Regions from separate parts of the Homo sapiens genome. Here region 1 is linked to region 2. Evidence: fine-mapped expression QTL. A gene starts in region 2. The other region holds a variant in brackets. All regions are shown on one strand. Distances are from middle to middle.

Evidence for each region.
Region 1: its variant is fine-mapped to the expression of KANSL1-AS1 in whole blood (INTERVAL, PIP 0.98).

Annotation. Positions count from the first base shown.
Region 1 is chr17:46,753,542-46,756,377 of GRCh38, reverse strand. It overlaps NSF (N-ethylmaleimide sensitive factor, vesicle fusing ATPase), which reads right to left. Exons shown (of 21, transcript NM_006178.4): 20 at 1,009-1,064; 21 at 1-576. The coding sequence ends at 555. It also overlaps a transcript of LRRC37A2 not described here. Among named protein-coding and RNA genes, the nearest start is that of WNT3, 64 kb to the left of the region's middle. The variant A/G (reference allele first, on the strand shown) is at 1,437.
Region 2 is chr17:46,192,015-46,194,990 of GRCh38, reverse strand. It overlaps KANSL1-AS1 (KANSL1 antisense RNA 1), which reads right to left and starts at 1,418. Exons shown (of 2, transcript NR_034172.1): 1 at 1,253-1,418. KANSL1 (KAT8 regulatory NSL complex subunit 1) reads left to right here and starts at 1,562. Exons shown (of 15, transcript NM_015443.4): 1 at 1,562-2,168.

The sequences.
Region 1 (2,836 bases), 560 kb before region 2:
AGATTCAATGCCTTGTTTCTTCAGGCAAAGAGAATACCAGTCTTGTGGGAGACCTTTAACCAAATACCCAGTGACTTTTAGTGTTAGCTCAGGACAGCTGTCAGAGGATCTCTGGCCCACACCTCGATTTACTAAGCCAGATTTGCATGTAGAAAGTCTGCCTTCTAATCGGCCAACTGTTGTCATGCAACATTCATGACACTGACTGAGAGTTTTCAAGGGTGATGGTGCTAGTAGAGAGGTTGAAACGTGTAGTGTCCACAAGTACTGGATGGTTCCCACCCAGAGGGACTGAGCAAGAAGGAATCACTTTAGCCTGCATGGGAAGGTAAGCGCAGCATTCTAAACCAAATTGACACCTTCCACGAGACACTAAGCTATCTCAGTATGCATAAGGAAGGGAGTTTTATTGCACTAATCATGCAGAGCGAGCACATGTTGAAGGTAGAGAACGTTCCACTTAGTCCAGTATCTTGAGTAAGACAGTGAAGATCCTAGGCCATCTTCACCTTGGTCACTTCCCTTGGTCACTGTGTGTTTCAAATAGTTCATTTTCAATCAAAATCAAGGGGGCTACTGCAAAAGAAATACCAAAACACAAAAAAACAGATGAGGGTCCGTAAAAAACTATTCATCAAAAAAAAAAAAAAAAAAATCACTAAAAGCTTCTTAATGGTTATCCTACATTTCCCACTATGCATTTGCTATTAGATGAGCACTTCACAAAAGAAAATGGTCACAGCTCCATGCATGTAAAAGCAGGTTCCAATAAATATGTACCATTAAGTTTTTCCTGCATTGTGACAAGGAAGTTTTGCGAAGCAGGACAGGGAGAGCAAACCAACAGTACAACCAACTTCCTTGCTTGGTCTCTCGGACCTACAACACAGCGAAGAATTCAAATAAATGGAAACAAACTTATCTAGGAAAGCAACTCTTAGAATAGGCACAGGGATTTAACAGGGTGGTAAGTTTGGTTGATGGTCATTAAATGTTGTATGTACTTACGCTCCTTCTTCTCTTAAGAGGGCCAAGAATTTTCTCACACGGTATTCAGGATCCATCTAAATACATCAGAAGAAATGAAGATGGGTTAATGGTACCTTCTAACAACTCTGCACTTGCTTCATGAGAAGGCAGTGTTCGGTTTCACACTTCATCAATGCTCTGCTAGGTCACTGAATGTGTTACCTGCTCCTTGACCAGCATTCTCACACAAAACAAAGCAGATCACATCATTTGGAGGAAGTGAATGGGGTTTTCCAGAACTATGTACACTGGGTTCCAAAAGACCCAAGCCCGCTGGCCATCATAGGCACTTGGGCCAGGCGTGCCCTGTGCTGATGCCTGTGAGGCATCGCTGTGAGACTGGACAGGGCCATTCATCAGAGTTCAAATGACAACCAATTCACCTGTTGAAGGTGTAAAAGGCTACT[A/G]AAGTCACAGCAAAGTAGAAGATACCAAGTTGAGGTTAATTCAACAACTAAAAAATAGCTTATTAACTCTACATAACCAACCATGTAGCTTTTCTTAGCCTCAGTATCCGTCATATAGTTTCTTCTTTGTAGTAACAAAGTTGTGCTAAAACTAAAAAAATGAAGAGTACTGCTGATTCCTGAAATCATCTCCAGATGAATCTGGGTCTCCTGTGACTGCGAATGTGTCATGAGTCTAAGAAAAGATGGCGCAACTTTGTTTCAGGTGCTTCGTTCAGGTCGTTATTATTAGCTATCTCGACTGGTTTTCATTTTCTATTCATATTTATACTAACTCGTTAAATGTACTTTATTCTCGTAGGCCCACAGGAGATATGAAGTTATCTAGAAAACAATCGTTAAAAACATCTTTAGTTCCTGAAGATGAATTTTTATTGTAAGAAACACACCTAACTTTTAAAATATGTTTCAGAGCAGGAGTCTGTTTCCCAAGAGGGAACTCCCTGCCCTCCAGGAATAACTTTCAAATGCTCAGTGCAGCTGTGGGGAGATGTGCAATTGGACTCCCACTCCAACCACGGATTTTTTTTTCTTTTCTTTCTTTTTTTTTTAAGATTTCTTCTATCCCAGAAAAACACTGAACAGAAGTTTCAAATGTATCAAAGGTAAGAGGTCAGACTACAAAGGACTAAGAAAAAGTGTGAATAGCTAACAAAAGAAACATTTTTCCTTTTTGGGAATAGAATTACATATGAATCAATTGTCAAGTTCTTAAAAAAAAAAAAAAAAAAAGAACTGGCTGGAGCGCAGTTGTAGTTGGTACTTGCAGTTCTTTGCCCATTAAATATATTTAATATGTGTGAGCAACAACTTACTGACTTGCCTGTAGCTATGGAATTAAAAGTCAGGAGAAAGGGAGGAAAAAAGTAATCTAGATAAATGACTTTATTCCCTCAGGTGACATCCAGTCAGAGCAGATCCTCAGCTCTGTGCAAGTTTTAACAGAATAGCATGTAGTGAACAGAGAGGTACCACGACTTATATTCTGCAAAACTACATGCCTCTTCACTTAGGTTCAGCCTCTCTAAGGCAGATCTAAAGAGAATTCACTCAGCTGCACGAAATCCATTTGACATGAAGGGGTTCAAACTCAGAGGCCTATGAAATGTCAGTCGCTGAAGATCAGGCCTGAGTGCCCCACTCTCACTCTCTATCCCACATGCATAAGAAGCATTAACTTGATCACTGACCTGCAGGCATCAAAGGAAGGGAAAGGGATGAGGGTTGGGGAAAAAATCCACATAGTTTCTTCTATGCAATTATTGAAAAAAAATTATACTGAAACTTAAAAAAAAAGAAGCTGACAATCTGACAGATTTATCTTTTTTTCAAGGAAAGAG
Region 2 (2,976 bases):
ATTTGACCCTATGACTCCAAACTGCCTGCCTTTGGTATTTGAGAACTATGACTATGCTTGAGAGTGTGATTTTAGGAGTACAAATGGAAATTCGCAGAAACCTAGGTGCAGATGTTGCAGGGGCAGGTGAGTTAGTGTAACTTTGTGGGAAGACTAAAACCGTTCTGTAACGACTGTGAGGGTGTTTTTTGATAAGCAGAAGTGACGTATAATGCCGGATATTGGTTCTGGTAAGCCACAAAAAAGTGTGAAGCATTTTGCGTCTTCCTTTTTGGTAGTAGAGCATACATACCCTTCTTATCTGCCGAATTTGATGATTTAATGATTTGAACGATTTTTTCTTCAGTCATTTAAGCCAGTTTTGATGAATCCTAGATTAGTCTTTTAAATCTCAAGATACTCCACTCATCTTTTGGCAACTTTAAAGGGTGGTAGAATTACACTTTGTGTGACACTTTGTATTACATTATGTTTATGAATTCTTTAAGTCTAGGAAAGGTTCCATTATTTTAAAGGTCCTATTTTGGGGACAATATAAAGTTCTGTACTGATAAACTGGTCATGAGAAATGATAAGGTGCCACCACTTTAAACCAACTCTGGTAACGAGGTGGGAAGTTGGCTTTTTGTTGTGAGACTTGTGTTTCTTTATGGAGTTCTTTGTTAAACTTTTAGCATGGCAGTGAACTTCCTTTTGGTGGCGGCAGGAAGCATAAATACTCATTGTGTAATGCCATTTGCCTGTTTTGGCGGATCTGCCAAGCCATGACACCCAAAACAAGACGCGTGTTTCTTCACGAAAACTACAGTTCCCAGCGGGCCCGGCGCCGGCGGGGCCATCACTTCCCCTCTGGCTCCCGGCTGTCCCTTCCCGGGCTGGCCCGGCGCGGGCCCTGGCTGGGGCCTGCGCAGTGACTACGTGCACCCTCCCCACCCCGCCCAACTCTGGTGGCTGCGGAGCGCGGTGCTGGGGCTAGTGCCCAGCCGTGCTGCAGTATACGGAGGCTGGCTGCTAGGGACAAAGGGCGGGCGGCGGAAGCCGCTTCACTGGTCAGGGAGCTTTCTGCAGGGTTAGCCTTGGAATAGTGTGGTGCCGACGGCCTTACCCTCTTTACTACACAGTGCAAACAGTTCCTCGCTCACGTCCTCTCGCTCCGCGGCGCCGGCCCGCCCTGCCCCTCAACTGGCGAGCCGCACCGCCGGCCCCAGCACGGAGGGCATGTGACGGCGTCAGTGCCTCAGGTTAGACTCACCTCGGCCGCAGCGAGGGCTGGCTTCCCCCTGCCGCAGTGCTGCGTGCCGTCGCCGCACGTCCGGGGCAGCTGGGGCCGGGCGCCGCGGCCTCCGCAGATGGAGGTACAAAAACATCGGCCACGGCGAGGAGCCATGACTGAGGCGGCGGCGGCCGCGCCTCCTGGCGGCCCGCGGGGGCGGCGCGGCGGGCGCCCCCTGGCGGCGCGCCGGGGTGGAGCGGCCCTTCGCCGCCGCAGCCGCAGCCGGCGGAGGCGCTGCTGTCCCTCCTCCCCGTGTCCCCGGCGCTCGCCCGCTTGCTCGCTCGCTCCATTCTCCCTCCGCTTCAGATTAAAGGGGGGGAGGGAAAAGGAGCTCGGCCGCCATTTTCCCAGTGCCGCCGCCACCGCCGCCACCGCTCGCCGAGCCGGCGGGAGAACCGAGCACCGTAGCGAAGCCGACTCGTCTCGCCGCGGCGGCGCGGGGGGCGGCTGAAGCGCGCTCCCCGGCTGGAAAGAGGCGGCCGGGGGTGGCGGCCTGGGTGCGGGTTCGGGCTGCAGACGGCGGTGCTTGTTTGTGCGGGGCGGGGGGGCGGTTTCACTCTCTGCCCCCGCCCGCCCGCCCTCCCGGCCGGGCTGCGGTCTCCAGCCGTGCTCGGGCCCCGTCGGTGCGGAGCAAGGCCGGGAAAGGGCCCGAAAGAGAAGAAAAAGCAGCCGCTCCCCGCCGCCGCCTTCCCCTCCCCCTCTGCCTCGCCCCCCCGCCCGGAAAGTCAGGGCGGCTCCGGGCGTCGGGGGGAGGAGAGCGGCGGGCCCGGGCCGGAGCCGCCGTCGCGCGCCCCCGCCCGCCGCTGGCCCTCGGCGCCCAGGCCGGGGGGCTGTTTGCAAACTGCGCCCATTTTGTGGGGCTGAATCCGCCCGGGCTACGCTCCTCCATCACGTGGTAGGTGCTGCTGCTGCTCCTCTCCTCCTCCTCCTGCTGCCCTTTCTCCTTCTCCTCGCTCTCCCTGTGGCTCCCATTTCTCTCTCTCTTTGTTAGTTGTAACTAGAAAGGCAGGGCAGGGTAGAAAAATCCCCCGGAACTTTAAATGGCCTCTCCGGGCTTCCCTGCTGCGGGTCCGGGCTGGGAGTCGCCCCAAGGGCGGGGGTGTGCGGGGGCCCTTCCCCAGGAGCTGCCGCCTCGTTCGCCAGCTTTTCCTTTGGCGTTCTATTTAAAAAGGCGGCCTGAAGAACATGATTTATTCCCGTAAAAGAACCCCCCAAACAAACTCTGGCTCTCGCCTTGAACTTCTCTTGACTGCAAAAGGCCTTTCTCTGCTCGAAACACACATCTTGGCGCGTTGCACGGTTTGTATCACAACTCTGATTGTTTCATTTATTATTTTTGTTGCCTGTAAATTCAGGTCACTTACGTTTTCAGATGTAGTCTCCCTCAGGCGGACTTTTTTTTTTTTTAAACTAAAGAGGAAGAGGGATTTATTTGCTTTTAAGTGAGTTGGAATCTTAACTGCCTTTTTGGGGGCCTGTTTTCCGGCTGACGGTCTTTTGATTCTTAGCAAATAGTTTGTTTTCCATACGATAAACAGCGCTACTCCCGTGTCTTACTTAAAAATCCTCGTTTTCCAATGTTGGAATCCCAATGTGGATTTATAGAGAAACGTGCTACTTAACTATTGCTTACTGATTGCTTTAGGGGAGAAGGGGTGACATGATGGCGCCACTTTAAATTGCTCTCTTTCCTTTTCCTCGGT